5 linked regions of the Homo sapiens genome follow. The protein of the gene in region 2 purifies or fractionates together with the protein of the main gene of each other region. This does not show direct contact. Each region holds a gene or a part of one and is shown on either strand. Other genes may lie near its edges. The genes, in order: RNF146, SH3BP2, TNKS, PLCG2 and HAVCR2.

Region 1 (5,408 bases), on a different chromosome or scaffold from region 2:
GGGAATGAGGAGGGAAACAGCTGCCTAATCATCAACACATTTTAGAGGAGTCAGGGAACAGTAATATGTGGGAAGGCAGGGTAGGAGAAAGAGACTTCAAAATAAGTGCAGGGAGTGAACATTTATTTAGTACTTACTATATTACCAGATTTTACATTTATTTAACATACAATCAATCTTAATTGATTTTGATACTTAGGGACAGAGTATATTGATCAGTCTTGGAGGAGTTAGGGGACAGTACTTACTAGATGTTGAGGGGTTAGCTTTGTAAACAAGTAGCAGTACCCCATATTGAGCCAGGAGGAATAATGATAAGACAGTAAAGGTAAAGATAGATTTTCAGGATTTATTTTTGACTTACCTAATTTCTCAGTGATACAGGTGTTAGTATATCGATAAACTAGGAGGGAGAAGTTTTATGATAGTCTCTGGGGAATAGGGAAAGAAAGATGTCTTGGCCGAGTAAAAGTTTACTGGGATTGATGGTGTTTAGGAAATCAAAATAGCTATTAAGTGTGTGGGGTTCACAACTTTTGCACCACACAAAAGTGAATTGTATGGTGAAATTTTTGTCACTTAGAGTAACTTGCTTGATTATTCTTTTTTGCGAATGTCTCCCTTGTTGGCTTTTGTGGTGGTGGTCTATCTTTATTTCCTGTTCTTCTCTGACCATTCCTTACACCCCTTCCTGGCTATTTTACCTCACAGATATTGGAGTAATTCAAGATTCTGTGGTTGGCCCTTTTGACTGCTCTCTCTACAGGTTTAATTTGGGCATTTACTCATTTTCATGGCTCCAAGGACCATGTATGTGTTGGTGAGTCACCAGACTTTTTTCAGCTCAGATTTATTCTTGGAGTATCAAACTAGTAAATTCAGCTGTCATCTACCTATCTCCACCTGGAGACCTTAATAAAGTCATTATGTCTGAGACAGAACTCTCCTCAAATTCTGAATTTTGGTGAATGTGTCACCATCCATCAGTAATCAAATGCTTTCATTTCTTTTTCCTTAGCATTCTTCTATTCTATTGTTGGAAACTTACATCAGCAACCTCCCTCTAATTATCTTATACTTGCATTACTACCTGGATATTCTAGTTTCCCTTTCGCCATACCTCCTCCTGCATTACCAAACTTTCCTCCAACCTGCTGTTCAAATGGTCTGGAAGCTACTAAACTGGCTGTTATTTCCTGACGTAAAACCTTTCAGTGAACTCCTCTTGTCTCATTAGTGGTTCATATGTGGACCAGCTTCATAGAAATCCTTAAGCCCCTTGAAATTATATGTAGGATTGTTCCCTTTTTGTGTGTCTGTAATTGGATTCTAAATTCAGACTTTAAAAATCTGATTTTTAATATTTGGAGTTTTTATTGCAAGCTAAAAATTTCTTGAATACTACACATACTAAAGATCTTTTTTGCTTATAATAATTTTGCCTTTCATTTGACTAGTTGTCCAAGAAGTTTCAAGGAAATCTGAGTTCTTGGAGATTTCCACTAACTCTGCCCATACCCCTCTATATTTTGTCTTCTTGAGAAGAAGACTTAGTATTAATAGACTCTTATTAGTCTGGCAGAAATATTTCACATGGTTTATCTATTGGAAGAAGGGGATTTATACTTAAAAGTTGGAATATCACATGAAGAATTCAGTAAAAACGTCTTTGAAAGTAAATGATGTATTATACTTATTAATAGAATTGGACTAACGTCACTCCAAATTTCTGTGTATTAAATTCTTAGTTTAGTAAACTGGAAATAAATTCCCTTTTTCAAAATTAGAATTTTCTGAGACATTTATGAGATAGGGAATACCTCTTTTGATTAGCATTAATACTTGCTCTACACAAAGGGAGGGGAAAAGCTTTCTTATTTACATATTGGTATGATCATCTGCATACATTTAGTCTCCCACCTATTTTAAGATCATTGGAACTGCAAAACAGAGACTGTGTAGGGTAGATTAAAATGGTTTTTTAAAAAGCCTTGAAGTATGTCTTATAGGTAGACTAGCAGTTTGGGGTTACTTTGTGTCTATCTTGTTACACATTTTATCTCTATCTTACTTATTGCATGTGCCTCATTCAGAATTAAATAAGAAATATCACTAAGTTTTTCTGCCCATTTGTTAGTTGGTGATAGACTAACAGTATACTTGATGGGCTAAACAGAATCAGAATTTATAAATTGCTATGGCAAATTGATAGTTAAGAGTGCTTCAGATGAAATAATGACCATTTAGCTGTCTGGTGTCCATTGTTTGCAGATTAACTTTGTCCAACTTCACTTCATTCTGATGATGGAACCAAAATACCTGCACAAACAGGATTGTTTTGCCTTTCCAATTATGTTATTATAATTCATGCCTTCTCCTGGGATGATTGTAATTGCTTTCTTAGTTTTGAAATTATGTGTTTTGGTTTATTCATAAATGCAAGAGTAAGAGTCATGCAAAATATTAATCATATTAAGTAGGGTGGAGGATAATGTTTTTAGGTTGGAAACTTTTTTTTCTGTAGATAAACGAGCTGTATGTGATGGAAAACTGACTTCTTGGGCCCATTTTACTTAAAGCAAATACAATAGGTTTGGAATTATGTATTTAAAAGCATGGCATTGGTCCACGTGACATGTTGGGTGTCTTGTTTTCATTTTACCAGACTCTGTTTTTATTTATGTTTTCAGTTTATGATCCTGTCCTTTGTTCATAAGGTACTTAGATGGTTTAAGATGTAGACTTCTTATATGAAGATGTTGCTGTTGTTTTTCCAAAGTAATGGTGGTCATCAGCCCATTTTTCTATTTAGTCTCATGAATAGAATCATGAGTAGAATCTTTCTTAAATTATTACTTGTAAATGGATCACTTTCTTGTTTTCTTTTTCTTAATTGGAGCTTTAAATAAATATGGAACTTGGAACAAAAAGATTTTCAGGAATTTTATGGAAACTAACTTTTTTGACCTAAATCGAAAGGGATGAAAGTTTCTGAAAACCTAACAAAATGTGTGCACAGCCAATTCTTTTAGGGGAGGAAATAGGCAGGGAATGTGTAATTGGCTATTTTAAAAACATATGCCTTCTTTTGTAACTTATTGTTGTTTCAAGTTACAAGATCTTTGAAGGCAAGTGTTTATCTCAAAATATTTGAAAGCTTTTATAGTGCTTAACATACTAAGACGTCCTATTAGGGTTTACTTAGAACAAGCTTATCCAACTTGTGGGCCACATGTGGCCCAGGATGGCTTTGAAAGCGGCCTAACACAAATTCATAAGCTTTCTTAAAACATTATGTGATTTTTTTTTTTAGCTTATCAGCTATCATTAGTGTTAATGCATTTTATGTGTGGCCCAAGACAATTCTTTTTCTTCCAGTGTGGCCCAGGGAAACCAAAAGATTAGACACCCCTGACTTAGAACTTTCCATAGGTTAGGAGAAAGTTGTACTTTCTTGATGTCTATAACCTAGAATTTCTGGTAAAGGAATTGATTGGAAATGTTATTAAAAGTTGAAAATAATTTGGAAATTAAACATTTTAGTGATCAGTTCTTCCATTGAGACTGTGTTGGTTCCTTTACTAGATATGTGCCATCTTTTTAAAAACTTACTGTGTTGCTTCCTTTACTAGAAAATTGCCATCTTTTTGAGCCTTGTCTATTGAGGAACCAAGAACACAGAAAAGGCAGTAAAAAGAAAAAAAAGGATTGTTTGAAGATTGAATGTGCTGTGATGATAGCCTAGGATTATTGTTTTTCAATTTTTGATGAGCGTAAGCATTCTTGTTGACTATATCTTTTGTAACTACTGACCCATTTAGAATGGCAGAATTAGCTGGCAGAGAGATTGTCATTCATTTTAAGCTTTCAATCTCTGACATCTTCATCTTTATTTCTCAGTCTTTTTTACTTATCAGTGGTTTACTCCATTATTTTCTCCCCTTTTAAAATGTCTTTTTTTTTTTTTTTTTACCATGGGGAAAAAAATTAGATGTTTCCTTGGCAGGGCACAATAACACAATAAGGCTTTCATGACTTAACTTTTGATTACCTTTACACCTTCATCTCCTGCTCTTCCATTGCTTGTATGACTATTTGACTCAGTGTCTTGCATGTGCTTCTGCCTGGAATCTGCTCCACTGCCCAGCCCCTCTGAATGAACACTAAACTTTCTAACCTATGTCCATCCTCTCATCTCTCTCTTACTGTTATTTTAGTAAGTATGTTAACACATTTTGATTACGCAGGAATCAGGCCATATTGTAATTATCTGCATGTATGTTTCCTTATTTAACAGAGTAGTTGTGTGTCTTATTTATCTTTAGACCCATCAGTACTTAGTATTGTATCTGGAACATGGCAGGTGTTTAGTAAATGTTTATCTGAATCAATAAGGCAGAAATTATAAATTTTATGTCAGTGTTTAAGCTAGATACATCCAATTTGACAAATCTTTTTTCTTCTTCCTCTTCAGGGGATCTTCAATATTCATGTTATTTTCTCCTTTGGTCTTATATGATTGTTACCTTTATGAAGCTTTAGTGATTACAAAGCACTTTTTTTGTCCATTTTTACCTGAGCTTTGTAAACTCTGATTTGCAGGTAAGGAAATTTAGACTAATGGTTTAACTGAGTGCCTAAGAGCACATAATTAATAAAGGACTCTAAAACTCAGATTTTTAGATTTCTTGTCTAGCATTCATTTCACTGTATAATAGCTGCCATGATTCAAGGTATCCTTTTCCCCTCACTGGATGCAGCTTTTCATTATATAGTTCTTCAGTGTGTTTCTCCAGGGCTGATCTGTTAAGTGCACTGATGGAATTTTTATACATTCCCAAGGTATGTACAAGTAGATGCTTACAAAAAATTTTCATCGGTTGGAGAGTTTTTCCTCTACTTTCATCTTCATATCCCCATTGTCTAGTATGTGGCTTGCATATAATGCACATCATAGGTGGTTAGTGTTTTCATAATTGTTAAATTAAGATATTGCAAGAATTAAAACATGACTTTAATATTATATGTATTTTTTCTTAGGATGGCTGGCTGTGGTGAAATTGATCATTCAATAAACATGCTTCCTACAAACAGGAAAGCGAACGAGTCCTGTTCTAATACTGCACCTTCTTTAACCGTCCCTGAATGTGCCATTTGTCTGCAAACATGTGTTCATCCAGTCAGTCTGCCCTGTAAGCACGTTTTCTGCTATCTATGTGTAAAAGGAGCTTCATGGCTTGGAAAGCGGTGTGCTCTTTGTCGACAAGAAATTCCCGAGGATTTCCTTGACAAGCCAACCTTGTTGTCACCAGAAGAACTCAAGGCAGCAAGTAGAGGAAATGGTGAATATGCATGGTATTATGAAGGAAGAAATGGGTGGTGGCAGTACGATGAGCGCACTAGTAGAG
Region 2 (6,309 bases):
GTAGAGATGGGGTTTCACATGTTGCTCAGGCTCACCCCATCTTTTATTTTTAGAGACAGTCTCACTCTTGTCACCCAGGCTGGAGTGCAGTAGCACGATCTTGGCTCACTGCAACCTCTGACTCCCGGGTTCAAGCAATTCTCCTGCTTCAGCCTCCTGAGTAGCTGGGATCGCAGGCGTGAGCCACTGCACCCGGCCTTAGTCCCCCTCTTTTAGCTCTGGGGTAGTGGGAGCCTCCAACAGCCCTGCAGCACCCAGCAAGTCAGCTGTGGCCTCCCTGGGCCTCTGGTCCTGGCTCTGCCTTGCCTCATGCTGGCTCCACACAGCCCCCCAAATCTACCTCTTCTTTGTGGGCAGCCAGGCCTGCCCTCGGGTGGCACTCTGGGGCTAGCCAGTGTGCCTACAATTTTTTCCGTATTTGGCCCCAGAGTGGGCTCCTGGGGAGGGGGCAGCATGCCAGCCTTGCTCCCTGCTCTTCCATTTGGTAAGGCTTAGAGGCAGGAGGCCTGGCCCCAAGTTGTCCTGTGGAGGGTCCTCACAGTGGGTCTTGGCAGCTGCCCCTCCAGGCTCACCTTCCTGCCCTTGCCACCTCCCACAGGGCCCCTGCGCTTTGTCATCATCCACAAACGCTGCGTCTACTACTTCAAGAGTAGCACCTCTGCCTCCCCGCAGGGCGCCTTCTCCCTGAGTGGCTATAACCGGTAAGTGCCCGACCTGCCTGCTGACCTCGGGCCCCCACAGCCAGCGGGTCCCTCCCAGCAGAGCCCCAGCTGGGCCTGCCCCTTATTCCCGCCCAAGGAAAGTGCTTTCCCGAAGCAGCCTTCGTGCCCATCCCCTGTCCTCCCCGCCCAGCCTCCACAGTGCCTCGCCCTCTCCGCGTGTCCTGCCCTCAGGCGCAGGACCTTGGGGGTGCCAGGGTCTTCCTGTGGCTTTGTGCACAAGTCCCAGAGGCCTGGACAGCCTGCTCTCCAGAGTCTCCACTCGGCCACCACCCAGTGACTTCTGCATCTCTCCTCCCTCCCCACCTTGCCCCTTCACCCACCATGACCTCTTTCCAGGCAGCCCAGACCCCAGCCAGCCCAGGCCCTGTCCCAAACAGAGGCTGGGCCCTAGGATTCCCTGCTCCAGGGTCCTCCCAGGCCGGGATCAGTTTCCAGCTTCACGCATGTCCTGGGCTGGGCTCTATCCAGTGATGGGCCATGAGCTGCCCTGGAGGGCCTTCTGCACTAACAGGCAGGTGGGCGGTGGCCAGGTGGCATGTGGGTGGGGGAGTGCACTGGCACAGCCCATGGCCTGGGGCCCACACAAAGGGTTAATGCTGGCACCCAGCTCTGGTTCTGGTTGCTATCCCATCGGAGCCCTGCACCCCACAGCATTTATCTATGCCTCTTACCACCCCTTAAGGGCCCAGCCCCTCCTGCCTATGAGGAACCAAGGGTCACATGGTATCAGTAGTGGAACTGGGACCTTTGGAGTGACTCTAGGCCCCGGCCTGCACCCTGGCCACAGGCCTGGTAGGGCAGCCTTGCCAGAGCACCCAGCCTGGTGCCAGGCCCCCATGCTGGCACAGAGCTCCGGGGTCCCCTGGGGAAGGTCGTTCCCTTTCTGCAGACAGACACAGCGCCTTCCGGCCTCCAGCATGTGCCAGCCATGCCATGAACCCTGGGCCCAGTGGCAGATGCAATCATGCCCCAGGGAATTGTCTAGCCCATCAGGGAATGCTGGGCCTGAGGAGTTTTGGCCAGGCTCTTATGGGCCGTATAAGTGCACCTGCCCCGGTGCCTGGCTGGCAGGGCTCCCCACGTGATAAACTCAGCGCAAACCCCACATCCTGGCTGTGTGAGTGGGCCGCAGAGCAGGCACGAGTCATTCCCTGAAATGCACTCAGGGCTGCTGCTGGGCCTCAGGGGCACGGAGCCCTGTGGGGTACCCCAGGGAGGCCAAGCAGGCCTGGGCAAATGGGGCCAGAGGTGGGAGGGTGGCGTCCATGTAAAGTGGCATTGGCGGGCATCGAGGCAGGTTTGTCCTTGTCTCCTGTGCACTGCTGCTCCCACGAAGCCCACCCAGCACCCCTCTTCCATGCCCCTCCATGCCCCCTTACGCCTGCCTGGGCATGAAGCTCACTACTGGGAGCATCAGCAGCCAGGGCCCACCCGATCTGCCCTCTTCCGTTGGGGCGTGGTGCTGGTGCCGAGACGTGTTCACAGGGGGGTGCTGTGGGAAGGCCATCCCTATAGCTGTGAACCAGGCCGTGACCCCTGGCGCTGTGCCCCCAGGGTGATGCGGGCGGCTGAGGAGACCACGTCCAACAACGTTTTCCCCTTCAAGATCATCCATATCAGCAAGAAGCACCGCACGTGGTTCTTCTCGGCCTCCTCCGAGGAGGAGCGCAAGGTGACTGGGGGTCCGAGGACGAGTGCAAGGTGACTGGGGGTGTGGGCCTGCAGGCACCAGGCTGGACCTGCCTTGGGGGCTCGCTGGTCCTGGGGCGCTGGCCTCTCAGCCCCGGGCAAAGAGAAGGTGTGGCTGGGACACAGGCAGCTGGGTGGGTGCTGCCCCAGCTCCATCCCCATGCCCAGAGCCTGGTGCCAGCGCCCACACAAGGAACATGCTGTCCTGGGAGGTGCCCCTGTGGGCTGAGGGGAGCCACACAGCCATGTTGTATCCAGCCGGGTCGCCTCCTCTGACCTTGGGAGTCACAGCAGAGCAGGCAGGGCAGTGAAGGTGGAGGGGTGCGGTGGGGCCCACCCTGGTGGCACCGTGCCCACCACAGCCCCGCTGACCTGCAGAGCTGGATGGCCTTGCTGCGCAGGGAGATTGGCCACTTCCACGAAAAGAAAGACCTGCCCTTGGACACCAGGTGAGCCCGGGCCCAGGGCATACCGGGCAGTGAGGGTCCCTGGGGCGCCTGGGCCTGACCCGGGTGTCCGCCTCCCAGCCCCGGGCTTGGCATAGAATTCCGTCCTTAAAGGTTTCCTGGAGGTGCCAGCTGGGCTGCGTCTCTCTGCTCCTGTCTACAGATAAACACAGATACAGGACAAGCACAGATGTTCACACACAGACGAGCGACACGCGGACACGCACACACAAACACAAGCAACACGCGGACATGCACACACACAGAGCAACACGTGGACATGCGCACACACACAGAGCAACACGTGGACATGCACACACACACAGCAACACGTGGACATGCACACACACACAGCAACACGCAGACATGCACACACAAACACAGAGCAACACACAGACATGCACACACACACAGAGCATGCACAGGTGTGCATGCATCTCTCTGCTCCTGTCTACCTCCAGCCCCATCTGTCACATCTGTTTCTGTGTTGCCGCCATGGGTAGTTCCTGTTAGGGGATCATGTGTGTTTATACGCCTGCCACCAGGGAGGCCTGGCATGGCAGCAGCTGGGCACTTTGGGTTCCCAGCCCCCTACGCCCACCCTGGCTCACTCAGAGTGAGACCAGAATGATTCTCCTGGCGGGGCGCCACTGGGCAGTCTGAGCCTTGGCAGCCTCCCCCGTGAGCTGGCCCGACGTGCAGCAGATACTCTCTGGATTGGGACTTCCTGGCCCGAGACGATGTGGAGGGAACAAACCTTCCTGTCCTTTCACAGGTGGGGACAGGAGGCCCAGGGAGGGCTGGGCACAGCCAAGGCTGCCCTGCAGGTCCCTGCCTGACTCCGGGCTCCCGTCCCCTGGTCCAAGCTGTTCAGCCTCGGGCCCAGCCCAGAGTCGCCCAAGCCCTCTTGAGGCAGGAGCAGGTGGAGACGTGGGCACAGTCAGGGCGGCCATCCTTGTGGGCCAGAAGGGGCACCTAGTGGAGGCACCACAGCCTCCAGTTCTTCTGTCTGTCCTTGTAACTGTGTGTGCATGTCCGCGTGTTGCTCCGTGTGTGTGCATGTCCGCGTGTTGCTCTGTGTGTGTGCATGTCCGCGTGTTGCTCTGTGTGTGTGTGTGCAATGTCCACGTGTTGCTCTGTGTTTGTGTGTGCATGTCTGCGTGTTGCTCTGTGTTTGTGTGTGCATGTCCGCGTGTTGCTCTGTGTGTGTGCATGTCCACGTGTTGCTCTGTGTTTGTGTGTGCATGTCCGCGTGTTGCTCTGTGTGTGTGCATGTCCGCGTGTTGCTGTTTGTGTGTGCATGTCTGCGTGTTGCTCTGTGTGTGTGTGCATGTCCGCGTGTTGCTCTGTGTGTGTGTGTGTGCATGTCTGCATGTTGCTCTGTGTGTGTGTGCATGTCTGTGTGTTGCTCTGTGTTTGTGTGTGCATGTCTGCGTGTTGCTCTGTGTGTGTGTGCATGTCCACGTGTTGCTCTGTGTGTGTGCATGTCCTCATGTTGCTCTGTGTGTGTGTGCATGTCCGCATGTTGCTCTGTGTGTGTGCATGTCCGCGTGTTGCTTGTGTTTGTGTGTGCGTGTCCGTGTGTCGCTCGTCTGTGTGTGAACATGTGTGCTTGTCCTGTATCTGTGTTTATCTGTATACTTCCATGTCTGTGTGACAGAGTCCTTGTGTCTGTGTGTCTACATGTCTGCGCGTGTCCCTGTGTCTTTGTGTATATATATCCATGCCTGTGTGCCTGTGTTCCTGCGTGTGCTTGTGTGTGCACGTGTGCATTTGTGTGTTTGTCAGAGTATGTGTGCATGTGTGTGTCTGTCAGCGTATCCATGTGTGCATGTGTGTGTCTGTCAGCGTATCCGTGTGTGCATGTGTGTGTCTGTCAGCTTAACCATGTGTGCATGTGTTTGTCAGTGTATCCGTGTGTGCATCTGTGTATCTGTCCATGTATCCGCGTGTGCCTGTGTGTACCTTTGTGTGAGCATCAAGGGACCTCCCAGGCCTGGTGCTCACCGTCCGCCCCAACGCACCCTGCATTGCAGCGACTCCAGCTCGGACACAGACAGCTTCTACGGCGCAGTTGAGCGGCCTGTGGATATCAGCCTTTCCCCGTACCCCACGGACAATGAAGGTGAGGTCTTTCTCCGCATCCACTGCCCGTTTGCCTCTCCCCACCTGGCCTCCTCTTGGCCGCTGTGGAGGAGAGGGAGGTGTGTTCGGCTGTGCTCCTTGCTCTGGCCCTTTGGCAGTGCGCAGTAGCATCCCTGGGCTCTGGCCTTCAGCGGCAGGGTCTGGACTCACAGTCCTCCCAGCAGGTGCTTGCCCCTTGCCTCCTGGACTCAGCCCCATGCATGGAGCATTGCTCGGAGACTGGGCCTGGGCCGGTTTGGCTCTCACCACCCCCCTCTCCCCATGCAGACTATGAGCACGACGATGAGGATGACTCCTACCTGGAGCCTGACTCCCCGGAGCCCGGAAGGCTTGAGGGTAGGTGGGGCGGGTGGGCCCGGGGAGCTCTGGGTGTGTAGGAAGCAGGGGCTGGGACCGGGAGCAGAGCCCCTCCGAGGCTGGGGATGCTGGCCCAGGTACCGCTCTGGGTGGCTTCCGCTTCCCTGCTGTGTCCCAAGTATTATGAGGATTGGAGCAGAAGAGGTGTAGCTGCTGCCACCTCTGCTCATTTCCTCCTCCCACCTCCCAGGAGGAGGGACAGGCACATGGCGATAAGTGGCAGGTGGAGCCGGGGTGGCCCTGGGGGTTAAGCATGGGGAAGGAAGGACGCTGAGGAGCGCGCAGGCTCAGGGCAGGTCCATGTCCCCATGGCTGCCAGCTTGTGTGGACACTGCTGCAGGCCAGGTCGTTGTCCCACCCCACCCCATCCCATCCCAGTGTCCACCTACCTCCTGCAGCACATGGCCTAGTCAAAGAGACAGGCTGATACAGGTGGTCACACGTGGATGACGGAAGCACGAGCTGGGTGGGGAGGACGTGTCTCTGTCCTCCTCTGTCGCCTCCCTCCCTTCCTCCCTCCCTATTGTCTCTCCAGCCCCCTCATCTTGTCAATTTCCTCATGTCTGGGGCTGATCCTTGATCCTTCCATTTTCCCTGCGTCCGCCCTGCCTCCTTGTTTTCCAGCCTCCTGTTCTCACTGACTTGGCCTCTGCCGACCCCAGCCCCTGACCCCGTATCCTCTCTGCCTCCCATCCACTCCCACCTTCAGGCTCCCGGGTCCAGCCCCTCTTCTCCTGCCGCTCCCTCCCTCCTTCCCTCTGGGGTCCCAGTGCCAACAGTCCTTCAGCCCACGAGGGTCTGCGGGCCGCTTGCCTCAGTTTCCTTCCATGCAGAGCTCTTGTCTCACAGTGTTCACCATGCCTGTCCCTTCGCCCACACACTACTGCCTTCCGTCTTAGCCTGGCTGGCCAAGCCTTGGTGAACTCAGACTCCGTCTGCCCAGCCCTGAG
Region 3 (6,309 bases), on a different chromosome or scaffold from region 2:
TTTCATGTTGGAAAGAAATAGGAAATCATGTAGAATAGGTAGGGTAAGGTTTGATTACTGATGGCCTTAAAAAAACAAGTAAGTGAAATAGGTGGATGGCACTAAAGTTAGTATTGACTCCTGAGGGCAGTAAATTATCTCTCCTTAAGTTATGAAATGTGAATTTTTGACATTTCAGCGCAGTATTTTTGTGTCAACTTTCATTGTGTTTAAATCTGAAATGGCAAAGCAAGGATTTTCTTTGTTTGTTTGTTTTTACCTGAAAAGGGGATGTTTTTCTTTTCTAGTCGACTCCTTTACATCTAGCAGCGGGCTACAACAGAGTTCGAATAGTTCAGCTTCTTCTTCAGCATGGTGCTGATGTTCATGCAAAAGACAAAGGGTAGGTCTATCAGTTTACTTCCTGTCAGTGCTTTGTTTTTTGTCTGATACTCTAAACTTTTAAAACACTAGACAAAGTCATATGTCCCATTTGTTACGGCTTACATAACGTTTTAAGAATGTTCATAACTCTGGTTTGAGGCTTTATTTTCATGTACCTACTTAATTAAGGATACTTCTCATAATAATTTCCCAAATCAATTTAATTTTATCACCGTTCTGTTACTTGAAGTTGAAATTGTGTCTCAGTTGCAGTTAGGGTTTTTCAACTCTTAAATTGCATTTTAGAAAAATAAAACAAATTGAAAATTATGAAAATCCAGTAGCATAGCTATCAGATTCAACAGATAGTAAAGGATCATCCTTTATTGATAAACCAAAATCATAAGTATACAATACCAAATTTTTTTTCTGGTGAAATCTTGGACATCTAAACTGAGAAAACCTAGAAGGTTGATGTGAGGGGATATGGGTGGTAACTAAAAAAGCAGTTATGTCATTTATTTTACCAGTAGGTCATTTTTGAAAACTTTGTATCAGTTTCCTGTAAAGTCTCCAGAGATATACGATCATTGGGTTTGCTGTCCTATGTGGTGGACTAACATTTCTCATTGCCCCACTTTAAGATCTGAAAGATAATTAACCCTACTACCCAGGTAAGGTAGATTATGTTACAGTCTTGTGACTGACAGCATAAAGAAGAGATGCCCTAGAGGAGAGTTTCTTTCACTTTGTCCCTCCCCAAGTCAAGAAACATAAAAATGAACTCAATGCTTGAGACACTTACCAGAAGAATTCTTCCATTTCCAATCTGCTTTTTCTGGTGCTGTTCTCTTGCCTGCACCAGGTTTTGTGCCATATGTGAATGGTGTCCCAGTAGTATAGGGGCATAAATGCCTGATGCTCTTGTACATCTCTATTTCCTTGTGCATGTCTGAAAACAGATGGGTGTACAATAGGTGAGTCATCAAGAGATGTACACCACAAAAAAAGGGTTTTTTTGGTTTATTTAGAATACTTTGATATGCAAGTTATAATAGTTTGGATATTTGATTATTTTGCTAGAAATTACCATTAAAGTGAATTAAAATGGTGGAATATTTCAGTTCACTACCAATTAACATTTATTTCTTGTAAATACTTAATATATAATGCATGCATTTGTCAATTAGCATATGATCTTCCTTTCGCCAAAATGTTCTTCTATTTGGTATTTTTTTCATTATCTTCAAGGATTATATACAAAAAACAAGATAAATACAAAAGGTGTGAACATAAGCTATGCTTTGAATTCTTTTATTATTTTATTAAATACTTTTAAATATTTTAAAATAATTGTATTGGGATTTATTGGATTTTATTTCTTAGTACGACATGGATAAATAAGTTGTTTGAAATTTAAGTATTTTAATTTGCCTCTTTTCATTTAGTGGACTTGTGCCTCTTCATAATGCATGTTCATATGGACATTATGAAGTCACAGAACTGCTACTAAAGGTAAGAGAAATTCAGAATATTGAGCATCATTTACTTTTTTTTTTTTTCTTTACCTTGTCATGACTTTCCATACTTTCGGCCTCATGAAAGTTTGTTTAGTTCTTTGGGGTTTTTTGTTTGTTTGTTTTGAGACAGGGTCTTGCCCTGTCACCCAGGCTGGAGTGCAGTGGCACATTCACAGCTCACTGCAGCCTCAACCTCCCAAGTTCAAGTGATCCTCCCCCTCAGCCTCCCCAGTAGCTGGGATTACAGGGGTGTGCCACCACGCACAGCTAATTTTTATGTTTTTTGTAGAGACGAGGTTTTGCCATGTTGCCCAGTCTTGTTTTTTTAGATTTTAAGAGAATAAAATACGTTTTTAAACATATTACCATTGCCTTAAAATTTTTAAAACATTGAATTTAATTTCAGCTGTTTTTGAAAGGTGATATTGAAGAAATTAAAACACTTATTTGAACAAGTTATAACTGAAATTTACAAAGAAATAAATGTCTTTTGAGTTTTATTTGATCCAGCAAAATGATTACTGACCTAAAATGTTTTTTTTCTCAATTCAGCATGGAGCTTGTGTTAATGCCATGGATCTCTGGCAGTTTACTCCACTGCACGAGGCTGCTTCCAAGAACCGTGTAGAAGTCTGCTCTTTGTTACTTAGCCATGGCGCTGATCCTACATTAGTCAACTGCCATGGCAAAAGTGCTGTGGATATGGCTCCAACTCCGGAGCTTAGGGAGAGATTGACTTGTACGTATTTATATCCCGAAATCATTATCGCATAAATTGGAATATTTAATTTCTGTTGAGTTTTATCTACCTTAAATAATAACCTTCCATTCTTACAAGCAGACTAATTCATAATCCTCATTTCTAATTGTATACTTTTCTTCATGAATTCCATGGGAATGTTATATACAGACACTTTTTGTATATATTGTATTTATTCGAGCCTAGTTTTAATTCGTATGTTGAAGCTCCTTTTTTGGTTTTTTGAAGGCTAATGAGGATGAGTCAATCAGCATCCATTTCTTGGATACTTGCAATGTGGCAGGCACTAGAAATATAGCAGTGTACAAACCATTAAAAAGCTCTGAGCTTCTGGGGCTTACATTCTTGTGCTATTGACAGTGATAGGTATCTAGCATTATTGAAACCTCTTATGGGCTTACGTTCTTGTGCCATTGACAGTGACAGGTATCTAGCATTATTGAGCCCTCCCCATTTCCCGAGCCCTGCAAGGCTGCACAATCATATTTTTATTTGTCATGTGTGTTATGACCCAAGTATAATCACTTTCCCATATTTAAGTGAGATTTTAAAAATAATTAGGTTGAGGTCATCTTCTGAATATATTACCAATATATACATGCAAATGTTTTTTAAATAAACTTTTTGTTTCAGCATAGTTAAAGATATAAAAATATTGGATTCTCATTCATGCAATTAATTTAGATACAGCTTTTCAAAAAATCTCTCACCTGGTTATGAAAATAATAAGCTATTAATTGTTCTTTGAAAAATTTTCAAGCTCTGCATTTCTCCCATATTTTAGTCCTTTCCTTTTCTGTGTCAAGACCTAATCACCATTGATATTTTGGTAAATATTTCTGTAAATGTTTTCTATACCATTACTTATGGTGTACTTATGGTGGCAATAGTAGTAGCAAGAGTAGTGACAATACCAAAAATAATGCATCAGCCTGTCCTTTCTTTTTTGAATTTTCATGTACCACTGTATACTTTCATGTCAGTGTATGTAGACCTATCTCTTGTTTAAGAGCTAGAAAGTGTTACAGCATATGTGCACACAAATTATTTAACTGGTTTCCTTTTGGTGGACATTTAGGTTTCCTGTTTCAAAATTTTGCTGCAATAAGTATCTTTATAGGTGTATCTTTATGACTCTGAGAGTGTGAAACAGTCTTATTTCAGAGCATACATACTTCACATTAATCTACATCCTCATCTTTTGCATTTTTATCATCATATTATCACATTGCTGCTGTTGTTAAAATAGAGAAATTCATAAAATAATAATATTCCTACTTATTTATAATCATGCTGAAGATTTTTATACATTTTTACATCTTTTTTTATGTCAACCATTGTTTCATTGACAGATGAATTTAAAGGTCATTCTTTACTACAAGCAGCCAGAGAAGCAGACTTAGCTAAAGTTAAAAAAACACTCGCTCTGGAAATCATTAATTTCAAACAACCGCAGTCTCATGAAACAGCACTGGTAAGATTTTATTGTTAATCTATTCCCTGTGTCTATAATAATAACGTAAGCACAAAATATGATTTTCATTTCAGAAACCTTAAAGTAACTTTAGTATCTGAAATGCCAGGAATTTGCATGTTAATTTTGGTTGCATTGATTTTTAAACTTAGTTTGGGGGGTGATTCTTTTCATGGGTGAGAGAATTGACATTTGCTCAACCTCAATTTGGAAATTATTTTACCTTTGTCTTCCCCACCTCATTATAACAAATCCACTTTTGTGGCCAGTGCTTTCATAAACTACAAGATATGATTTTTCAATAGAATTTTTTTTTCTTATGTTTGCTAGATAAATACTAGATTTCCTTCTGTAGAAGATTAAAGTATATTTTTAGATATTTGCATTATCTTTTTGAGCAATTGTATTCAAAGAACTGATTATATTCATGGTAGAAAAATGGCAAGATCATGAATTTTTTGTTTGATACTATACAAATTATTCTTAAAACTATCCACGTTTTTTTCTTCAAATGCACTTTCGGAAAGATTTATTTATTTTCTTTGTCATTGACACATTAAGGCTCAGCTAGAGAGTGGTTAGTGATCGCTCCTAAATTCAGAATTTAAGCATATGTGATGCCTGCATCACAGACCTTAAATATACCTAATTAATATTCTTACGTATATTTGACACAAAAGATCAAACGTTTGTCAGTATCTGCATAAAACAACATTAAAGGATTGACCAAACTGAAATAGGCTAACTATATGTACACTTAAATACATGTCTCTCAAACTAGGGTTGAGATAGATTCAAGCTACACGGTGTTATGCTAGGAGATATTCATAGCCACAGAATAAACCTGACCCACTTTTTTGGAGTTTTCATTTTATTTAGTTGAAAGTAGTTTTTTATTTTTAAATTTTAATACGAATATTAAAATGAAGCAGAATAAAAAAGTTGTATAAATATTATGTTAAAACCTAAAATTTCTGAGAATATTTTTCTCTAAACTGCTTCAGTTCTATCATTTTCTTGCTTATCCTTGGGCATATAAACGTCTCCTGTAGTGCTGGGAGTACCTCTGTAGAAGAGCTTAGAAATACTGACTTGTGTGGCTGATGGCCTAATGAAAGATTGAGTAACTTAGTTATAGATTTCTGTAGCGTTGCAGAGGCATACGTATTATGATGCTCTCCATGGAATATATAGTGAATATTTATTGATTGGCTAAGCCAAAAGAAATAAGATCTCTCTTAATGTTTAAGAGCATAATTTCACCTTGGTTTAAACGCTTACGTTTTGTATTTCCACTATACGTAGAAAGAATATGGATCATCTCTGTGATATAAAACATATACATATGTTCTGATACTCTGAGATAACAATGTTTTAAATGGTCAGCAGATACTGTTCAATTCCAAGAGCTACTGTACATATGGAAGTGTATTTTATTAACTTGGTTTTGTTTACTTTATAGCACTGTGCTGTGGCCTCTCTGCATCCCAAACGTAAACAAGTGACAGAATTGTTACTTAGAAAAGGAGCAAATGTTAATGAAAAAAATAAAGAGTAAGTATAATTGCAGAAGGAGTTGTTCAGTTCCTAAAGAGGAAATGCAATAAAAGAGAGACAATTACCTTTTCTTTCTTTCCTCTTTTCTGTAGTTTCATGACTCCCCTGCATGTTGCAGCCGAAAGAGCCCATAATGATGTCATGGAAGTTCTGCATAAGCATGGCGCCAAGGTGAGGCACACACCTGAGCAGAGTGCCAGACTCAGCACTGAGCAGCCAGCTGCTCTTAACACTGCTTCTCTCTCTCCGATTTTTCTGAAGAAACTAATTTTATAAAGGACTATTAGTTCGTACTTAAATTCATGGATTCTCCTATAAAGCTGATTTAGATCTTGTTTCTAATAAAAATAATTACCCGTGTTTCTTGATCCTTTAATGTCACCCTTCTGTAAAGCAACAAAATATAGCTATAGTCATTTGAAATAGATTTCATCTTTACATTACTTTCAGTTAATACTATACGGATATATTTTGATAGTGTCCACTTGAATAACAGTTTATCAGAAAATAAATTATGTTAAATGATAGCATCAGAATAGCTCTACTTATTCTAAAAAACATTTGTGGCCAGGCACAGTGGCTCACGCCTGTAATCCCAGCACTTTGGGAGGCCGAGGCAGGTGGATCACGAGGTC
Region 4 (6,309 bases), on a different chromosome or scaffold from region 2:
GAGCTTGGCTGCTGGTGGCCACCATCAGTTCCTGCCTACCATCGATATGCATGCCATTCCTTCTCTAAGAGAGAAATTTCCTTTCCTTGAAGCTGAGCTGGGCTTGCTGATCTGAGTTGGTGCAAGTGATGTCCTCGGATTTATGAGGCTGTCGTAAGAAGCCTGTAGCTTCTGCCTGGGACTCTTCTGCCTGAGACCACCACATGGTAGATGTTTGGTCAACAGTCCCAGCTAAGGCTGGGTGCAGTGGTTCATGCCTGTAATCCCAGCACTTTGGGAGGCCAGGGTGGGCAGATCACGAGAGGTCAGGAGCTCAAGACCAGCCTGGCCAACATGGTGAAAGCCCATCTCTACTAAAAATACAAAAATTAGCTGCATGTGATGGTACCCACCTGTAATCCCAGCTACTCGGGGGGCTGAGGTGGGAGAATAGCTTGAACCCAGGAGGCAAAGGTTGCAGTGAGCCGAGGCTGCACCATTGCACTCCAGCCTGGGTGACAGAGATTCCGTCTGAAAAACAAACAAACAAAAAATAATCCCAGCTAAGCTCAGTCTTCCAGCCATCACCACTAAGGTATCAGATGTGTGAGTGAAGATTCTGGAACCTTCCAGGCGAGGTGACACCAAATGACCTCAGTCCAGGCTACAAAGAGTAGAAGAATTGCCCAGCTGAGCTCTGCCCAGATCTATGACCCACAAATCTGCTTGTTTATATTACATGACACCCATTAATCCCACAGGATCAGGGCAGCCATCCCTGCTAACCATCTAGCAAATCTCTCTAAACTCCACCCAAGCAGCTCCTCCACAATGAGCCCTCCCCATTCCTCACCACCTCCCCCACATCCAAATGGACAAAAACCTTCCCTCCTCACACCACATCCAGTGAAAACTCCTGCTATGGTACTAAGCACACAATCTTGCAAGGGCAAGTTTGAGTCTGTCTCCCCCTCTTGCAAGCTGGGACTCCATCCTCCTCCTCCCTCTCTCTGCAGAGTTTAGCACTCAATATGATGGCAAACATGTGCTGAACAAATGAGAAAATTCCATCCAAACAGGGTTCAGAGCAAAACCCTATTTTACCCAGTGACATTTTATTGCTGTGAGCAAAGCAAACACATGACTCTAGAGCAGTTTCTCAACCCCTGCACCACTGACACGTTTGCTGGATCACTCTCTGTGGTGCGGACTGTCCTGTGCACTACAGAACATTTAACAGCCTCTCTGGCCTCTACACACTAGATGCCAGTAGCACCCTGTATCCCAGGTGAGAAAATCAACACGTCTCCAGACTTTGCCAAATGCCCCCTACCCTGGAGTAGGGAGGGAGAGGCAAAAATCACCCTGGTTGAGAACCACACGCTGCTTTAGACAGTAGGACCTAGGTATTTTACCCAGGTCTGCACAGGGATTGTAACACCTGTCCAAAAGTCACACACCATTTGCCAACTATTCCAAAACCAGGTGCCGGTGCTCCTCTCATGTGCACCTGCCCCTGCAGACCCCACAGTAACCAGCAAGTTCCTGCTAACCAGAACCCCGTGAGGAAATTGCCAGAGCTGGGAGTTCTTCTTGAGATAAAACGTCACCCTTCTCAGCAGGAGACTGAGCGGTGACACTGACAGTCCCCACCCAGGGCCTGAAGGCCTGCTCTCTCAAGGTGTGAGGGAGAAGCACCATTTCTAAGCTCTTCACACATAATTGGCTTTCCCTGTCACTTTACCAACACCATCATTGCAAACAGGACCTCCACTGCATGCTCAAAGATGCAAATCCAATCACGTCATCCCTCTTCTGAAAACCTGAGAATGGACCCTACTCCCCTCCAGTCCAAACCCCTAAGGAAGACTACATAGGCTGGACTCCACTAGTTAGCAACAACAGCAAACATCCTGAAAGTGGTGGTTCCCAACAACTGAGTGCCTGTCACACACTATGAATTCAGCCGAGCCTCTCCAATGCATCTTCTCATTTGCTTCTTCCCAACCATGAGCCTGTGGGGTAGACACCAATGTTATTTCCAGTCCACAGATAAGGGAATTAAAGTTCAGAGAGTGGAGGTAACTTGCCCAAGATCACACAGCAAAGCTCATCCAAGGGCACTGGAAGTCAAGCCCCAGACTGCTCATACCTAATAAAGCAATATAGGCTCCACGGAGATTTGAATCCAATTTAATAACTGCTGTATCTCTAGCGCCTAGGGCGGCGCCTACAGTGGGCATCCAAATGACAGAGGGGAGGCAATGGAGGGGGGGCAAAGGTGGGAAGGGAAGGAGAAAGAAAGGGAAAGTGGGAGGGAGAAGAGGAGGGAGAGGAGGGGGAAGGTGGAGGAAGGGCAGTGTCTCTCCAGTGGCATATGTGTGAAACCTGCCTAGTTACCAGACCATCCGGGGGACTTATTATAATAATACGCCCCAGCCAAAGTGGTGAAATATCATCATTCTTGGTCTCTCCAGGGAGAAAGAAGAAGGAAATAAAGAGGCTGAACAGATAAATAAAAGAATGAATTGAGGCCGGGCATGGTAGTTCCTGTCTGTAATCCCAGCACTTTCGGAGACCAAGGTGGGAGGATCACTTGAGGCCAGGAGTTGGAGACCAGCCTCGGCAACATAGCAAGACCCTATCTACACAAAAGTTAAAAAATCAGCCAGGCATGGTGGCACTCACCTGTAGTCTCAGCTACTTGGGAGACTGGGCAGGAGGATCACTTGAGCCCAGGAGTTCACAACTATAGTGAACCATGATCAGGCCATTGCTCTCTAGCCTGGGCAACAGAGCAAGACCCTGTCTCTAAAACAGAGAGCGAGAGAGCGCATCCGCGTAAGCGAGTGAAATGGTATTACTCAGCAGAAGGGGAGAATGACAGGGCATAGATTTCAAGCCAAAATCCTGTCTCATGCCCATCACAATGAGCTTCAGAAGAAGGTTCTAATACCCTGTAATTTCTTTTTTGTATATATTTATTTTATTTTATTTTACTTTAAGTTCCGGGATACATGTGAAGAGCATGCAGGTTTGTTACACAGGTGTATACACATGCCATGGTTAATACCCTATACTTACAAGATCCCCCCTGGGTGTTTCTGATGGGCAGCTAGGTTTGGGATGGGCAGGTTGAGAAGAGAAAGGAACAACCTGCAGTCCAGTCTCAACGTGGCCCATCTGTATTTACCATCAGTGCCAACCCTCTCACCCCTTGTGGGGGAAGGGAGGGTGGCCACCCCAGCTGCAACAGGTTTCTGGGCCACCTGGGGGTGGAGCCGGCCAATGCAAACAGTCAAGAGGGAAGATGGCCACCTCCACATGGGCAGTTCCAAAGCAGGGCTCTGGCTCTGTGCCACAAGAGACCCACTGGGCTCCAAAACCAGGAAAAGCCTTTCAGAAAGCAGTTTGATCACACTCATGATAGGATACATCAAATTAAGGATGACACCAAGCTACCAAAGTCTACCTGTGGATGGCCAAGTTCAGCAGCCACGCAGCATAGATGAGGGTTCAGGCAACAGGTACTTTTACATCCTGTGGCTGAAACAGACAGTGGGGGCAACCTCTTTTGTGGGGTGCTGCCAAACTTCCCTTTAAAGTTAAAATATGCCATACCCCCATCCTGCCTAACACAGTGAGACCCCGTCTCTACTAAAAATACAAAAAATTAGCCGGGCGTGGTGGCGGGCGCCTGTAGTCCCAGCTACTCGGGAGGCTGAGGCAGGAGAATGGCATGAATCCGGGAGGCGGAGCTTGCAGTGAGCTGACATTGTACTACTGCACTCCAGCCTGGGCAACAGAGCGAGACTCTGTCTATTAAAATATATATATGCCATATCCTTCAGCTCAGAAATAAACCTTCAGGAAGCTGTCCTTCAGATATACCCATATATACAAATGAAGAATAATGCAACGATCACCCTTTTCTACCACTGGAAGGAATATAAATGGTGCAGCCACTTTAGAAAACAGTCTGACAGTTCCTAAAATGATGAAACTGAGTTAGTGTATGACCCAGCAATTCCACTCCTAGGTATATACCCAAAACAAATAAAAACAGACATCCACACAAAAACTTGTAGAGAAACATTCTTAGCAGCACTATTTATATTAGCCAAAAGGTGGCAACAACCCAAGGGTCCGTCAACAGATGACTGAATAAACTGTGGAATACCCATACAACGTATCGTGATTCTGCCACAAAAAGGAAAATTTCTGATCCACGCAACAAAGTGGATGAACCTTGAAAAATGCTGAGTCAAAGAAGCCAGTCACAAAAGCCCACATACATAGGATCCATTTCTATGAAATGTCCAGAATAGAGAGGTTTATAGAAACAGAATTAAATTTAACGGTTGCTTACGTCTGGTAGGGGGGATGAGGGGATGGGGTGATGGTGAAAGGTATGGGGTTTCATCTTGAGGTGATATAAAGGTTCTACTTTTGATTGGAGTGGTGCTTGCACATTTATATAAATATACTAAAACCACCACACTATACATGCTGCATACAATGGGTGAATTCTATGTATACTATGTGAATTATGTCTCAATCAATCTATTATAAAAAAAAAAAAAAAGAGTGCAAGGCTGGGTGAGGTGGCTCATGCCTGTAATCCCAATGCTTTGGGAGGCCAAGGAGGGAGGATCACTTGAGCACAGGAATTGGAGACAAGCCTGGACATAGTGAGATCCCATCTCTACAAAAAAAAAAAAAAAAAATTAAATTATCCAGGCATGGCGGTGCATTCCCATGGTCCCAGCTACTTGGGAGACTGAGGCAGGAAGATCACTTGAGCCCAGGGGGCTGAGGCTGCAGTGAGCCATGATCATGCCATTGCACTCCAGCCTGGGTAAAAGAAAGAGACCTTGTCTCAAAAAAATTAATTTTGTTTTAAAAAAAAAAGAGTACAATGATAGTCACTTCGAATAATAACAAAAGCCTGGAAATAGCATGAAATGCCCTTCTCTGGAGTTAAACTGTTACATTGAGGCCTGTGCCATTACATGTCATGTGTCCAAGAAAGAATGAGATCAATGTGTGCTGATAAGAAACCACCGCCAACATCATTATTAATTAACAAAAAGAAGTCAAGGTGCAGAAGTGTACAAGAGTTCCCAATTGTTTTCTTTTTAAACCCACACATTATGCAAGCATAGACTATTTTGGAAGATAAAAGTAACTGGTAATGAGCTTGCCTCAGTAGGATGGTTTAGGGAGGAGAAATATTTGAGTTGACTCCTTAACCCCCAGGAATATATATTTCAATTAAAAACTAGTTAATTTAAAAACACAAATTAGAGCAAATATTTGCAACTGAAAATTGCTTAAGTGCCTTTACTCTATTTGTTAAAAACAGTCTTAGAAACTTTAGGATCTGAACCAGCTGCCCAATCAAACGGAGGTAGGGGAGGAGGGACACCTCTACCAAGACCAGACCTGCATTTGAAAGCTACAAAACGTTCAACAACTCACTCTCCCTGCTTGGAGACTAAAGCAAAGGCCCCTCACTGCTATGGTATGCAGTAAAACAAGGTAGCATTTGGCGACCAAGCTATGAGTTTCTGCAGGCTTGGGCTAATTCGCCCTTAAGAGGAAAGATGACTCGACCAGTTGTGGGAACCAGACGATCCCTGATGCTGTCAGACAGGGCACAGAACCACCAGGCAAGGAGAGCTGCCTGAATGCCATTTCCATGTTGGCTGACCTCAGCTTCAGTTCTTTCACCAGAGTTTTCCCAGCTGAACTTCCTCCACCTGGTGTAAACCTCATCAGAGATCCACACAAACTGGCAATGCTTTCATTTTAAGACGAATAAAAGAACACATCAAACCAACAACAATCACAGTAATGACAAGACAGGAAGGTGGACAGGTGCTCAGGCCAGGGCCCCAGAGGACGGGCCACACTGCCCCACCCAGCGAGTACTCACAGAAGCCCTCGATCTTGTCAGCGGTCTTGCTCCAGGCCACCTGCCGCGTCTCCATGATCACCTGGACGGTTCTCCGCTCGGGGGTGGACTTGCGGAAGCTGAACACAGTCATCACCGTCCCCAGCTCCAGGGCTCTCTTGATCTGGCTCTTCTCATATTCCGCAAGGGAATCTACATTGACCGTGGTGGACATTGTCGGCCGCTCCAGGGAGAAGGAAGGAATCGGGAGAAATCAGGAAGCTGAAAGGGCAGAATTAAAGAGTGAACTGATTTTAGTACTGAAAGGGGTTTAGTTAACAGGGCATGAACTTCAGGAACCAAAATCCTGTCTCATGTCAATCAGGATGAGTTTTAGGAGAAGGTTCTAGTGGCAAGGCATCGCTGGCCACTCA
Region 5 (6,309 bases), on a different chromosome or scaffold from region 2:
GTCAGTGTCCTGGTCTCTTCTAAACTCTCTGGAGCTCCATTTTTTTTTTCTTCTGTAAAATGAGGTTAATAGGTGAGTCCCACCTCATAATGTCATAAATCTCATAAATCACACCTTATGGGCTTTAAATAAGAAAATGTCTAAAACGTTTATCCCAATGTCTGACCACAATTTGTACATGTTAGCTGTTGTCGTTAATATTATAAGATCAGGAGGCACAGTGAGATTGTGGTTAAAGTACTTCAGTGACAGGTGGAATGGGTTCTAATTTCAGCTGTTCTTGATAGCTCTGTGACCTCAGTCAAGTTGCTCAAATTCTCTGAAGCTCAGTTTGCTCATCTCTACAATGAGGATAATTCCAGTGCCCATGTCATGAGGTGGTTGTAATGTATAAACATGATAATGTATGTAAAATGCTCAGCATAGTACCTGGCCCATAAAAAGCACTCAACTGTTTATTATTACTATAGTTACTGGTTTTAGCTCTCCAAAGTTTCAGTCTTTGGTTAGTCTTTAGTGATTGGTAGCCAACATCTTTTATGCAATTAGAGAGGAAACTAAATATGGTGGGGACAGAAAATAATAAAGTTATACCAGATACTTATTGTATGCCATTGTTATATTTTAAAGAATCTTACAACCATAGTGCTAGAAGGGACTTCAAGGGTCATTTAGTCTCACTTTCCCATCCTGTGCTTCAGTACTTTTTTTTTTTTTTTTAATTGAGACGGAGTCTTGCTCTGTCACCCAGACTAGAGTGCAGTGGCGCAATCTCGGCTCACTGCAAGTTCCGCCTCCTGGGTTCACGCCATTCTCCTGCCTCAGCCTCCCAAGTAGCTGGGACTACAGGCGCCCACCATCAAGCCCAGCTAATTTTTTTCTTTTTTGTATTTTTAGTAGAGACAGAGTTTCACCGTGTTAGCCAGGATGGTCTCCATCTCCTGACCTTGTGATCCTCCCGCCTCGGCCTCCCAAAGTGCTGGGATTACACGCGTGAGCCACCGCGCCCGGCCAGTACTTTTTACTACATCACCACTGAATGGGCATTTGCTGTAGACGGAGTTCACTCCCTGTCGAGGTGGTGCATTTCCTTATACTTGTCTCTACCACAGACAGAAGTCTTCTTTCCTTTAGTTTTTCTTTCCTTTTTTTTTTTTTTTGAGACGGAGTCTCACTCTCTCACCCAGGCTGGAGTGCAATGACACGATCTTGGCTCACTGCAAACTCTGCCTCCCAGGTTCATGCCATTCTCCTGCCTCAGCCTCCCAAGTAGCTGGGATTACAGACGCGCGCCACCACGCCCCGCTAATTTTTGTATTTTTATTAGAGACGGGGTTTCACCATGGTGGCCATGCTGGTCTCGAACTCCTAACCTCAGGTGATCCCTCTGCCTCGGCCTCCCAAAGCGCTGGGATTACAGGTGTAAGCCACCACGCCCAGCCTTCCCTTTAGTTTTTGTTTGTTAGTTCCTTCCCTCTAGGGCAACAAAAATGGGAATATAGGAATAATACCTCGAACCTCTGAGCTTCTCAAGGGCCTGACTGAGAAAAAATATTGAAACAACCAAAAATAGGTCAGTAGCTCCTAAATAGGAAAATAAAATAAAAAATTGAAATGAATGAATATTTAATGGTTTGTCTATAATATGTAACATTATGTAAATTGGCTGCTGGCAAACCAACTCTAAATGTGGGATGTGGGAGCATTTAATATAAAAATGGGGCTGGGCACAGTGGCTCACATGTGTAATCCCAGCACTATGGGAGGCCAAGGCAGGCAGATCACTGGAGCTCAGGAGTTCAAGACCAGCCTGGGCAACATGGCAAAACCCCATCTCTACTAAGAATACAAAAAATTAGGCTGAGTGCAGTGGCTCACACCTGTAATCCCAGCACTTTGGGAGGCCAAGGCAGATGGATCACCTGAGGTCAGGAGTTTAAGCCAGCCTGGCCAAGATGGTGAAACCCCTGTCTCTACTAAAAATACAAAAATTAGCTGGTCATGGTGGTGCATGCCTATAATTCCAGCTACTCAGGAGGCTGAGGCAGGAGAATTGTCTGAGCCTGGGAGGAGTGAACCGAGATCTCACCACTGTCCTGAAGCCTGGAAAACAGAGCGAGATTCCATCCCAAAAAAAAAAAAAAAAAAAAAAATAGCCGGGCATGGTGGCATGTGCCTGTAGTCCCAGCTACTTGGCAGGGCTGAGGCAGGAAGATTGCTTGAACTCAGGAGGTTGAGGATTCACTGAGCCGAGTTGGTGCCACTGTACTCCAAACCTGGGCAACAGAGCGAGACCCTTTCTCAGAAAAAAAAAAAAAAAAAATGGAGTAGAGCCTTTAAAAGTAAGAGATCCAAGGGCCTGGAATTTGAACACAGAACAAATGCAACTTGTCTTCTACCTGAAGGAGTAAGGACTGGGTCACAGGTGAGTCCTCAGCTCTAGAGTAGATCTGCTTTAAATCCTAGCTTTCCCAATTAATAGCTGTGTGATCTTGGGCAAAGTGGCTCTCTCAGACTCAGTATCTTCATCTGAAAAATGGGGAAAATAGTAGTACCTACTTATTGTGGTTGAGGATTAAATGAGATTGTATGTATATGGTGCTAAGCACCATGTCTGGCACCTAATAAGTACCAAATAGATGGTAACTACTAAATTTATACACTGTTAAGGCCATCACATCTCACCTCCGCTGCTACCTGCCCCACCAGGCAAATCTTGGTTTCTCCAGAAAGAACATTGCCACTCCCTTCAACTGTCCCATCCATCTTGGTTGGTGGCCAAATCTGTGTGAAAAAAAGCTGTAATGACACAACAGTGCTTGATTTTACTGATCATTTTCATAGCAAAATGAAGTTTTTAAAAAGTTAGTTTTACCATTTTTATCAAGAAAAATAATTATAAGGAGTCTGAAACTGGATTTACATTTAAAATCTTATGTGCACTTAAGATTCATGTTTACTTAGCAGTTGTACTGATGAGGGTCTTTTTTTTATTTTTTTGATATGGAGTCTTGCTCTGTCACCAGGCTGGAGTGCAATGGTGTGATCTCGGCTCACTGCAACCTCCACCTCCTGGGTTCAAGCGATTCCACTGCCTCAGCCTCCTGAGTAGCTGGGACTACAGGCGTACACCACCACGCCCGGCTAATTTTTTGTATTTTAGTAGAGATGGGGTTTCACCATATTGGCCAGGATGGTCTCGATCTCCTGACCTCGTGATCTGCCTGCCCTCGGCCTCCCAAAGTGCTGGGATTACAGGTGTGAGCCACTGCACCAGGCCTGTGGTTTTTATATTTTAAATTTTTTTCTGGTAATTAGGGCAAAAGTAATTGGAACATAATCTTTTTTTCTTCAATAATTTTAGGCTGAGGCTATGCCTTTATAATATTTAAACTATAGTTTGCTAAACCAGCATTTAGTCAAACCCTTTATACACATTAAGGCTTCCAGAAGGTGACAGTGACATTTAAGAAGTTTCAACATCTCTGACTCAGCCATAAAAATGAGTAAGCATGCTTAGTTTTCCAAAAGCTGGCAATGTACTTATTTTTAGAATTCAGTGTTCATGAGGTCAGGGCCTGTGCCCCTCTTGTTTCCTGCTCTGTCCCCTGTGCCTAGAGTAAGGGCATAGTGCATATTCATGGAATGGATCAGCAGATGAAGAAATAAACAAATGAACAGGAAGGAAAGATGGTGAGTGGGTGGCTGGGCAACGTGACCCTCTTCATAATGACAGCACTGAGGTAAGGGCTGGTGAAGGCAGTATAATTAAGAATGTGCATTTAAGGCTATGCAGACCTAAATTGGAAGGCCATTTTGTCATTTGCTAAGTCATGTGACCTTGGGTTAGTCACTTCACTTCCCTAATTTTCAGTTTCTTCATCTGTGCAATGGGACTAACAGTCTCTACTTTAGAAGCGTAGTTCTAAAGTAAGTGCTTCTAAGTATCTCTAAAATGAGCTTCTTCACTGAAAGAGTTTATTTAGCACAAGGCCTGGCTCCTATTACATTGTGACCACAGTGATTATTTTCATTTGTTGGCAACCCTGTCTCCCTTCTCATGAGTAAATGCAAAACTTATTTAAGAAAATGGAGGCTGGGCACGGCACGGTGGCTCACGCCTGTAATCCCAGCACTTTGGGAGGCCGAGGCGGGTGGATCACTTGAGGTCAGGAGTTCGAGACTAGCCTGGCCAACATGGCGAAACCCCGTCTCTACTAAAAATACAAAAATTAGCTGTGTGTGGTGGTGTGCCCCTGTAGTCCCAGCTACCAGGGAGGCTGAGGCAGGAGAATCGCTTGAACTCAGGAGATGGAGGTTGCAGTGAGCAGAGATCATGCTACTGCACTCCAGCCTGGGTGATAGAGTGAGATTCTGTCTCGCAAAAAGAAAAAAAAGAAAAAGAACATGGAGGTTGCAGTGAGTTGAGATTGTGCCACTGCACTCCAGCCTGGGCAACAGAGTGAGACTGTCTCAAAAAAACAAAAAAGAAGGAAATGAATTTTTGTTGTCTTTTAAAATCTAATTAGAATATAATGCCTGAGGCCAAGCCTGGTCGTTCACACCTGTAATCCCAGCATTTTGGGAGGCTGAGGTGGGCAGATCACCTGAGGTCAGGAGTTCACAACCAGCCTGGTCAACATGGCCTCGTCTCTACTAAAAATACAAAAATTAGCTGGGCGTGGTGGTGCATGCATGTAGTCCCAGCTACTTGGGAGGATGAGGGATGAGAATTGCTTGAACCAGGGAGGCCGAGGTTGCGGTGAGCTGAGATTATGCCACTGCACTCCAGCCTGGGTGACAGAGTGAAATTCTGTGTCTAAATAAATAAATAAATAAATAATGCCTGAGTCTTATCAATATTGCTAGATGTTTGTAGAACTCATTAGGGTCCTGTGAAAAAAACAAAGCACATATTTAATGTAGGACTTCCTGGCAGAAGTCTCTATTTCATAAAACAGTACGGTTCATTATCTAGATGAAAAAATGTGGCCATCCTAAAGTTGATTCCTGGGTGTTCAGTAAATTTTGTCTGTCTCTCCATTAATTATTGTGACAAGTACGGAGTAGAATTCATTTCAAATAGGATTATAGGCATCATTAAGATTTTTTAAAAACTTAGATAAAAGAAAACGTTCTTAACTATACTATTGGCTATTTTTCCTCTCTCTCTCTCTCTCTCTCTTTTTATAGCAGAGACACAGACACTGGGGAGCCTCCCTGATATAAATCTAACAGTAAGTAACTTTTTTTGTGAGCTATGTTGTACTCAACTTGGAGGGGAAATCATGGCTTTAGACTTCCTTCATGCCCACCTTGTCCTTGGGGTAAAAAGCCTTAAGTTCCCTTAGCTTCAGATTCCTGGGCTGTAACATGTTGATGATGACAGTTCTAACCTCATAGGCCTGCTGTAATGAAGGACTGACATGATGTGTGTAAAGTGCCTGGCATATAGTAAGAGCTTGAAAACCACAAAGAAGAAACATTAGCATTTTGTCCCTCTTATTCTTCAATTTCACAACTGTCTACCCTGTGGAAGGTTCAAAGATTCTTCATCTCCCTAGAATACCATTCTTCTTGCTTCCATTGCAATCCTAATGGGAAAGAGTATTTAAATTTATCTCTTTAAATATGGCAAGACACCAGTCAGGAATATTCAAAGTGAAGAGGTTTTTTTTTTTTTTTTTTAGACAGAATTTCGCTCTTGTTGCCCAGGCTGGAGTGCAAGGGTGTGATCCTGGCTCACCTCAACCTCCGCCTCCCGGGTTCAAGCGATTCTCCTGCCTCAGCCTTCCGAGTAGCTGGGATTACAGGCATGAGCCACCACACCCGGCTAATTTTTTTATTTTTAGTAGAGACGGAGTTTCACCACATTGGCCAGGCTGATCTTGAACTCCTGACCTCAGGTGATCCACCTGCCTCGGCCTCCCAAAGTGCTGAGATTGCAGGCGTGAGCCATGGCACCTGGCCTAATTTTGTATTTTTAGTAGAGACAGGGTTTCTCCATGTTGGTCAGGCTGGTCTTGAACTCCTGACCTCAGGTGATCCGCCCAACTTGGCCTCCCAAAGTGCTGGGATTACAGGCATGAGCCATGGTGCCCAGCCAGTTTTATGTATTTAACTATAAATAAAGCCATACCTTAATAAACCTCAATTTTACTGTCCCTGCTACCTTCTCAGAATAAAAGAAAAACTGGCTGGGCGCAGTGACTCACGTCTGTAATCCCAGCACTTTGGGAGGCTAAGTAGGGTGGATCACCTGTCAGGGGTTTGAGACCAGCCTGGTCAACATGGTGAAACCCCATCTCT

Evidence for each region.
Region 1: the proteins of SH3BP2 (region 2) and RNF146 purify together in Homo sapiens (affinity purification with western blotting, with the first as the bait; one study listed by BioGRID). This does not show direct contact.
Region 3: the proteins of SH3BP2 (region 2) and TNKS purify together in Homo sapiens (affinity purification with western blotting, with the first as the bait; one study listed by BioGRID). This does not show direct contact.
Region 4: the proteins of SH3BP2 (region 2) and PLCG2 purify together in Homo sapiens (pull-down; one study listed by IntAct). This does not show direct contact.
Region 5: the proteins of SH3BP2 (region 2) and HAVCR2 purify together in Homo sapiens (co-immunoprecipitation; one study listed by IntAct). This does not show direct contact.

What each region holds. Positions count from the first base shown.
Region 1 is NC_000006.12:127,281,576-127,286,983, forward strand, and holds part of RNF146 (E3 ubiquitin-protein ligase RNF146), read left to right. Parts: exon of another isoform or gene 1-3,773; intron 3,774-4,474; exon of another isoform or gene 4,475-4,602; intron 4,603-5,040; coding exon 5,041-5,408. UniProt on the Homo sapiens protein: E3 ubiquitin-protein ligase that specifically binds poly-ADP-ribosylated (PARsylated) proteins and mediates their ubiquitination and subsequent degradation. May regulate many important biological processes, such as cell survival and DNA damage response.
Region 2 is NC_000004.12:2,822,337-2,828,645, forward strand, and holds part of SH3BP2 (SH3 domain-binding protein 2), read left to right. Parts: intron 1-598; coding exon 599-701; intron 702-2,276; coding exon 2,277-2,394; intron 2,395-2,789; coding exon 2,790-2,860; intron 2,861-4,893; coding exon 4,894-4,982; intron 4,983-5,269; coding exon 5,270-5,338; intron 5,339-6,309. UniProt on the Homo sapiens protein: Binds differentially to the SH3 domains of certain proteins of signal transduction pathways. Binds to phosphatidylinositols; linking the hemopoietic tyrosine kinase fes to the cytoplasmic membrane in a phosphorylation dependent mechanism.
Region 3 is NC_000008.11:9,704,376-9,710,684, forward strand, and holds part of TNKS (poly [ADP-ribose] polymerase tankyrase-1), read left to right. Parts: intron 1-287; coding exon 288-382; intron 383-1,811; coding exon 1,812-1,878; intron 1,879-2,435; coding exon 2,436-2,622; intron 2,623-3,995; coding exon 3,996-4,117; intron 4,118-5,579; coding exon 5,580-5,671; intron 5,672-5,766; coding exon 5,767-5,845; intron 5,846-6,309.
Region 4 is NC_000016.10:81,785,791-81,792,099, reverse strand, and holds part of PLCG2 (1-phosphatidylinositol 4,5-bisphosphate phosphodiesterase gamma-2), read right to left. Parts: intron 6,158-6,309; 5' UTR 6,111-6,157; coding exon 5,918-6,110; intron 1-5,917. UniProt on the Homo sapiens protein: The production of the second messenger molecules diacylglycerol (DAG) and inositol 1,4,5-trisphosphate (IP3) is mediated by activated phosphatidylinositol-specific phospholipase C enzymes. It is a crucial enzyme in transmembrane signaling.
Region 5 is NC_000005.10:157,097,786-157,104,094, reverse strand, and holds part of HAVCR2 (hepatitis A virus cellular receptor 2 precursor), read left to right. Parts: intron 1-5,193; coding exon 5,194-5,237; intron 5,238-6,309. UniProt on the Homo sapiens protein: Cell surface receptor implicated in modulating innate and adaptive immune responses. Generally accepted to have an inhibiting function.